2 linked regions of the Homo sapiens genome follow. The protein of the gene in region 1 purifies or fractionates together with the protein of each later gene. This does not show direct contact. Each region holds a gene or a part of one and is shown on either strand. Other genes may lie near its edges. The genes, in order: PRH1 and EHMT1.

What was found.
Region 2: the proteins of PRH1 (region 1) and EHMT1 purify together in Homo sapiens (affinity purification with mass spectrometry, with the first as the bait; one large-scale study listed by BioGRID). This does not show direct contact.

The regions. Positions count from the first base shown.
Region 1 is NC_000012.12:10,881,163-10,885,612, forward strand, and holds the start of PRH1 (salivary acidic proline-rich phosphoprotein 1/2 isoform a preproprotein), read right to left. Parts: upstream 3,094-4,450; 5' UTR 3,056-3,093; coding exon 2,992-3,055; intron 1,935-2,991; coding exon 1,899-1,934; intron 1,537-1,898; coding exon 1,073-1,536; 3' UTR 1,055-1,072; intron 1-1,054. UniProt on the Homo sapiens protein: PRP's act as highly potent inhibitors of crystal growth of calcium phosphates. They provide a protective and reparative environment for dental enamel which is important for the integrity of the teeth.
Region 2 is NC_000009.12:137,814,505-137,818,004, forward strand, and holds part of EHMT1 (histone-lysine N-methyltransferase EHMT1), read left to right. Parts: coding exon 1-4; intron 5-1,442; coding exon 1,443-1,558; intron 1,559-2,934; coding exon 2,935-3,021; intron 3,022-3,500. UniProt on the Homo sapiens protein: Histone methyltransferase that specifically mono- and dimethylates 'Lys-9' of histone H3 (H3K9me1 and H3K9me2, respectively) in euchromatin.

The sequences.
Region 1 (4,450 bases):
ACTCTTGCCCTCTATCCCTTCTACAGCCCCCTTCTCCTTAGTAATATTTTCTTTGTTCACTCTTTAAGCCATTGCACATAATGTGATTTAAAGTGTTGCTTAGATGAGAAAGAGAAACAATTATTGTTATGTGTTCATGCTTTGCTGCTGTTGGTTATGTAAGGGCTATTTTTACAAAGATGGGCACTGCAACATATCATATAATAGTGAGAATGTGAATCCAGCCTTAATATCCAGTGACAGGGATTGGTTAAATAGATTACGGAACAACCAAACAATAGAATAGTATACAATTGTAAAAACAAACTAACCAATAAACACTGAAGAGATCTAAATGAACTCATGAGAAAGTTTTCTAAACAATAAATTTTTCCAGTGAGTAAGACACAAATCTGAATATACAGTATGGTATAAGTGCTTGTAATAAAAGCATTATATATATTTATGTAGCAATATATATTTCAAAAAGTAGATTCCAAAGAGTAAAAGGTGGGGGTTTTGAGAAGGATAGAAGGGAGGAAAGATGAGTTAGGCTCTTACTATTTAGCTCTGTACATTTCGGTTCAGTGAGATTAGTTTTTGTTAGCTTAAGCATGTATGACTTTAAATGTAAGTATACTAAAAATGAGATACCATTTTACAACTGAAAGTTCAAGGACCACTTAGCAGGAATACTGGACCTGAAAGCCTGATGTGAGGCAGGACTGAGCAAAGCATGTTCAGGTGAAAACTTTAAATGGGAGTCTGAGTTTGAGGAAAGAAAATAGAGAGAGCCAAAGGGGGAACATGGTTCTATGTCCTCATTGTCAACCCTACTTAAGACATGTAATTTGAAGATAGTGATTCTCAAAATCAGAATTGCCTTCAAGAGCTTCTGTAAAACACAGGGTCACAGGGTCTTGATACTCTATACAAGAATATCTGAATAACAATTTTTAGAAATGTGTTCCAGGACAGGGCAATATTAACAGGTTTTCAGAGGATTCATTGGCACAATGAAGTTGGAGAACTGTAGCAGTTGGAGCCTTTGATGGATAATAAACTGGAATCGTACCTGTCATTGAATCCTAGATTACTGAGGAGACTGCCCCTGTGGAGGTCCTTGTGGGCGGCCCCCTTGGGGAGGTGGTCCCTGGGGCTTTCCAGGAGGAGGTGGGGGAGGACCTTGCTGATGGCCTCCCTGTTGGGGTGGTCCTTGTGGCCTTCCTCGAGGAGGACGGGGATGGCCTCCCTGTTGGGGTGGTCCTTGTGGCCTTCCTTGAGGAGGAGGGGGATGGCCTCCCTGTTGGGGTGGTCCTTGTGGCTTTCCCTGAGGAGGTGGTGGACCTTGTTGCTGCTGGCCTCCTTGTTGGGGTGGTCCTTGTGGCTTTCCCTGAGGAGGTGGTGGACCTTGTTGCTGCTGGCCTCCTTGTTGGGGTGGTCCCTGCTGAGGGCCATCATCCTGGTTCCCATCACCAGCAGAGGGTTGAGATTGCTGTCCTCCCAAAGGTGGTCCCTGACGCTCCTCATCTAGGAACTGCTCAGAGTCTCCTCCATCTGTGTGAGTTGAAACAAGAAGAGCTGAGCTCATGCTGGAAAACCCTCCTGTCTTCATACCTCTCTGTCTTCACCACACGGCCGGCCCCTCTCTGCCTGACCTGCCTCTCAACTCCCAACCTCCCCCCTTCCCAAGGCTTCCTAATTAGAACTCCTCTTAATCCACATAAGGGTGATGAAAAATTGAATTTCTTTACTCATGGTCCCCAGAATCAAGGTTGGGAGAAAACTGTTTGTATCTTTGGGGCATTGGTATTAGCCAATTCCTGACAAGAAAATGGTGATAAGAAGACACTGGAGAACTCATCAATTTTTCAGGGAAAAATGGAGACAGAGTTTACTGAGAATTTATTGGGATTTACCTGATATTACGAGGGGAACATCTTCCTGGCTGACATCTAGAAAAGAAGTACAGGATGATGGGAAAAGTTACTTCCTGAATCATTCAAGGCTCATAGTGTTCTACGAGGATAAAGGACCTCTGATCACACCCTGTGCATCCCCTTTGTGATCTCATCAGCCACTCTCTGATGCTACTGGAAGTGGAAGAAGATGTAAGGGAAAGCAGTATTGTTACTACACTGAGCGTCAACCAGGAACTCAACATAGAAGGGCCCCTGTTTGTCCTCTTTTGATTCCCCAAGCCTTGATGAGGAATGAAGATACAATAGGTCTTCTGATCCTCGGCATGAAAATTCTGCAGTCCCATCTGTTTTCTCATCCTCCTCTCTTCCCTCCACTTTCCTCCTCTATAGCATTTGCCTGTAAACCCTTAGCGCTTATTTAGTTAAACTGCTCTGAGTATTTCAATGACATATTTGGGGATTCTTCTGCCCTCTTTCATCTGTAAATATGTTGTTTATGTTTGCAAGCCTTCTCAACAGGAGCCACCAGACATAGCCACTTGGATATAATCTTACGCATGCCATTCCCAGCACATTGAAATACTACATTCAGGAGACAGAAAAATGACAATGTTTCACTCTGGTTATTCTCTAACTCTATGTAGACAGAGACAAGTGTTTACCCAATTCTCTGCCTCGGCAGTAGCTCTGACATGTGTTTATCTCCTTCATTAATGCTCATCCACTGTACAGCAAGGCCACCATCATCCCTGTCTACTGGGATCAGTACAGGATCTTCACAGCTGTACTTCCCTGAATCTGTCTTGCATTCTCCACATCCTTCACAGCAGTCCCATGTCTCTATATAATGCAAATCTCACTCTCTCACACCCCTAGTACGAATTCTTTATTGGATTCTATTTGTGCAACAAATAAACTATGAGGCCTTGATGAGGAATGGAGGTACAATAGATCTTCTGATCCTCAGCATGAGAACTCTGCAGTCCCATCTGTTTTCTCATCCTCCTCTCTTCCCTCCACTTTCCTCCTCTATAGCATTTGCCTGTAAACCCCAATCAGAGTCACAATATCTTCCCCCAATTCATCTTACCTTCATTTAAATCCTGAGCTGAGCTGAAGGCCAGCAGGGCCACTGACAGCAGAATCAGAAGCATCTTGCAGGAGGCTCTGGTGTCACTCCCAACTTTGTGCTGGGAGAAACGTGTCAGCTCCCTTTATAAAGACAAGCAGGACAATGGTGCATTTGAGCTCCCTACCAGGTGGGCCTCCTCGCCTCAGAGACTGGCTTCTGCTTTGCTTACTTCAGGTCAAGTGTATCCCTCATTTCTTTTGGGACTCTAGCTCAGCAGGAAGGGTTGGGTAGGATATTGTTTGTGTCTAATTCCTAAAAGGCACAACTATGACTTGGACAAATGTTTTGACGGAACTGTGTCCAAGCAGTCGGCACAGTGTCAGGATTGAACTTTAGACATCTTTTGGTTTTCAATCTGTTTGGAAAGACTGCTATTCTGCTTTTCACTGTGCTTTTCATTTCTGTGTATGTGAGTTTGTGTGGGTGTGTCGGGGGGTGGACACTGATCCTACAGCTAACAGTGAAGATGGTCAATATCTCTGACTGTTTTGATAGCCTCTTTCCATCTCTCATGATGTGTGTGCGTGGATATTTTCACATTTAGCTAAATTTTTCATGTAACAGAGATGGTCTTGCTTATCTGTGAGATGTGTGAGGACAGCACACTCCCAGGCACACATATATGAGAGAAAGGTGCTGGCAGCCTGCTCAGGCTACAAGAATTGTCCAAACTTCTGTGAATCTCACTACACTCAGGCAAGCCTTGGTGCTATACAACACAGGCAAGCTAAAATATTTGTATTTTAAAAATATCTTTAGGGTTTATTAAAGCAAAACTGAACTCAGAAACCACCAAGGAATTTCTAGACCTGAACAAACTGAATATATGGTTCCCTAAGTGAGCCACACGATGTCATATAGCTAAGACCTCCACTTTCTCCAGAATATTCCATAGAATTCATCCTCTACTTTATTTCTTCTAATAAATATTGTAATTGTCATCACTGATAATTAAATGGCCACAATTATACATTCATCTAAGATAATTTGTAATACCTGTCCAAGCCTCAATTGCCTTGATTGGTCTTCTGCTTTTACTCAGTAATTATGTCACCTGTTTCATCAGAGTGTTCTTTCTCACCAAGGATTTTTATCTGTAATATTCCAATACTCATTCTTTCTCATTCTTTTTCTCGCACTTATTTGTTGAAATTTTGTATTCTGAGTCTACCTTGCCATGTTTACTTTTCGTCCTATATCTTTTTTTTTCTCCCTACAAAGGTGTCCTTTATTTATCCTTCTAAGTAAAGGTGTGTGGTACTCCTCACTACCTTTACTTTCATTTTTGTCTGTATAATTTGACAATAAAAAATTAAGTTTCCAAAAAGCCCTGTCAGGGTCCTGGTTTGGTAGCTCTCTCCTCAGCTGCTGATTGCTCCAAAAATTAAGTTTCCAAAAAGCCCTGTCAGAGTCCTGG
Region 2 (3,500 bases), on another chromosome or scaffold:
CAAGGTGAGGGCGGCCTCGTGTGCGTGGGCTCAGGTGGTAAGTGCCGCTGGTCCGGGTCTGCAAAAACAGTGCAGGCGTCTGTGACCCCAGCGCTGTCGTGGCAGCGTCGGGAAGGAGTTGGAGGTGAGCTGGGTGTGACAGGCAGGGGAGGCACAGCGGGCACCAGCACCCGAGTCAGGGTCGTGAGCCGAGGACATGGCTGCGGATTCCCTGGGGCTGGGGTCTGCATCCTTTGTGGCTGCCTGGATGGTGGCGGGGGTGGGCAGCGTCAGCCTGGCTTGGCCCCAGGAGGAGGTGCTGCTTATGTTGTGTGTATCTGGTAAGCTGTGCCTTGTGCTTGCTGAGTGTGAGGGGTGTGAAGAGGGAGGGTGCTGCCGGGCTGGGTACAGGGAGCATCAGTGTGGGCGCTGGGCTTGAGGAGACACAGGATTGGAAGTTTCTGTTGGGTGCTGGTCCTCGGAGGAGCCCAGGTTGGAGGCTGCTGAGGAGGAGACGGGAGTGGGGAGTAGCCCTGGCTAGCAGGGGTGCAATTCAGGGGAGGGATGTCTAAGCAGAGGCGGAGAGTTCCTGGTCTCCCGAGTTCAGAGGTCACGGTGGGGGCGGAAGCCAGCATGGCCTGGGTAAAGAGACGCGAGCAGGGAGAGGCAACAGGCGTCCCCTCTGGAAGCAGACTTTGGAGGAGAGTGGACATGGAGGGTCAAGTGTTTACCCATCTGAATTAGAGGCTCCAATGGGAAAAGGATTCGTGCCAGTGAGGGCTATGGAGATGGTACGCTCAGAAAGCCACCAAGCTCATGTCCGAGTGGTGTCTTTTCAGGTGGACAGTGTTGCTGAGGGGGCGCAGGAAGGAATGTTCTGAGGAGCGCCCTAATTGTTCAGAGCAGCCCCTGAAGCCGTCAAGCCAGAGTGTGCCTGGGCAGCCCTGGGCCCCGCGCCTCAGCTCACACAGCCCTGGGGGAGCATCTGCACCCAGTGCTGCTGTACCTGGCCTGGCTTCAGGGGGGTAGAAAGGGGAGCAGAGGGCTGGGTCCCTCCACAGTTGAGGATTTGCAAGGCAAGGAGGCCAGGAGTGCAGGAGGGTGCAGGAGGCCCCAACCAGCTGAAGAAAGCAGAGCAACCCAGGAGCTGGCAGCCTCGGTGAGGCTGGAGAAGCCCAGGCTGGGGGCTGGGAAGGCCCTGGGTGGACAGAAGCTGGCCCCAGGCTGGGCCTAGGGGAGCGCTCCAGGGGGTCTCCACAACCTGTGTGGGCATCTGGGTGGAGGCTTCTCATCCAAACCGTACACATGGAGTTTTTCCCTAGGTGGGTGTTCAAGTTTGGCCAGAAACCATCGTTTTTATGTCCGTTTAAGCCACACTGGGCACTTAGTAGAAATGGGTTGATGTCAGTTCAATTAAAGAGTGAGTAACCTCTGCTGGGCCCTTGCTGCTCATCTGTCCACAGGATGGCCGGCTCCTGCCAGAGTTCAACATGGCGGAGCCTCCCTTGATCTTCGAATGCAACCACGCGTGCTCCTGCTGGAGGAACTGCCGAAATCGCGTCGTACAGAATGGTCTCAGGTGAGAGGCAGCTTCCTGCCGGAGCCCCACATTCTGCTCGTATTAGCACGTATTAGCACGGAGGTCACCCCGACAGACAAGAACTTAACGTGTTTGGATGCACGCACATGTGTGTTTGCAGATAGAGCCGACAAGTTACCTGAGCCCTTTATCCTCTAGAAATGTCACTTGTGCCATAAATCACGAGTCATGCTTCCCCCAGCACAGACTTCGGCATGAGAGAAGGAGCAGGTTGTTGGGTCAGTCCAGCTAAAAGCAGAGGAACGGACTTGGCCTAAGAATTACCTTTGTTACCGAGTTCATGCGAACATTCTTCAACAGGTTAGGGCTGTCGTAGTTCTATTTTAATACTCCAGTCATTTTCTAAATATTCTCTGTTCTCTGGGCTTCCCTAACAGTGAGGTGATGTCCCAACGCTTCTCAGGCTGCGTGGACTCCTTGTTCCTGGGTTGCTCAGGACGCTCATGGAGTAAGGCTTGCCCAGCGCCCTTCCCCAGCTGGGCTTGGTCCCCTGACCGCCCAGCAGCTGCGTCTCCTTTCCCTGGATTCTGGTCTTGAGCATTTCCTCCGCAAATGTGCCCGAGATTGGAGAAGTCAAAGCTCCTCTGAGTCATAAGGGAAAGTTATGCACACTTAAATTTAGCTGAACACTCATTTTTATAGTATTGACTTTTTTGTGACCTCGATAAACTTGGTTCATGGTGAAAGGCAGTCTCTGTCCTTGGTATGGTAGAAAGGCCTGGTGGTGAGGACCCACGCCAGACAGACGCGAGGCAGACACGGGACACATGCCAGATGGGCAGACGCGAGGCACGTGGTTCTGAGGGCTCCTCAGAGGCCCACATGCCAGGACCGCCCAGCCGCCCTCCTCCAGATCTACCCGGCCACCCTCCCCCAGGCCTGCCCAACCACCTTCCCCCAGCCCTGAGAAACCCTCGACCGCCACCTCCCCTGCCACCCTCCCCCAGCCCTGAGGGGCCTGTGGGCTCCTTGTCGGGAGCAGGCTGGGCTGCAGGTGTCACCACAGCCTGGTCCAGCTATAGGCTTCTCTAGTATTAGCACCTCTGCCCCTCACAGTGCCTAGTGGCCCAGGCCCAGCTCTGTCCCCATGTTACAGATGGGGACACCGAGCCACGGCCAGGACCAGTGACTTGCCGAGGTTGTGGGCTGGGGTGCTCCTGGCTGATCCCCGGGTTCTTGGCTCCCTGAGAGTGCGAGATGCCGTGTCTGTGAGGTGCCTGCAGCATCGAACGCTTCGGATACAGAACCAGTTTTCTTCCTCATTTCAGTGACGTGGCACCAGCTGGCTTTTGCTGACCATTGTGGCAACAGGCTGAGGCTGTGGCCTGGGTTCACCACTACTCTCTATTTTTCAGGGCAAGGCTGCAGCTCTACCGGACGCGGGACATGGGCTGGGGCGTGCGGTCCCTGCAGGACATCCCACCAGGCACCTTTGTCTGCGAGTGAGTGAGTCCCTGGGTCACCCCAAGCCTGGTGTCATTTCTGGGACGGAGGCCCATCTGTGTCTGTACTTCAGGAAGCCCCTCTGGGAGCAGGCACATCCCTGGCGTACAGCAGCGTGGGGTGGGGGCCACAGAGACCCTGGCCCCGAGAACCAAGCTCGTGCTGTCCTCAGTCCTCTTGCTGCTGCCCGTAACCAGCCCAGGAGTGCATTTAAGAAGGCGTGGTCCAGTTAGGAAGGCGTGGTCCAGTTAGGAAGGCGTGGTCCAGCATGGGCAGTCATCTCTAGGGGAGGACCATTCTGGGTTCTCAGGTACCAGACCGCAGACGCAGAGCTTTCGGTATCGTTATCATCATCCTCCGGACCCTCAGCTGAAACCCCAGTTCAACCCTGGGCACACCTCTCTAAACATGTTCCCTGCATGTTCTTCTGGTGTGCCCTGCTCTTTCCCTGTGGCTGCGGAGTCTGGGCTGTGCTTGT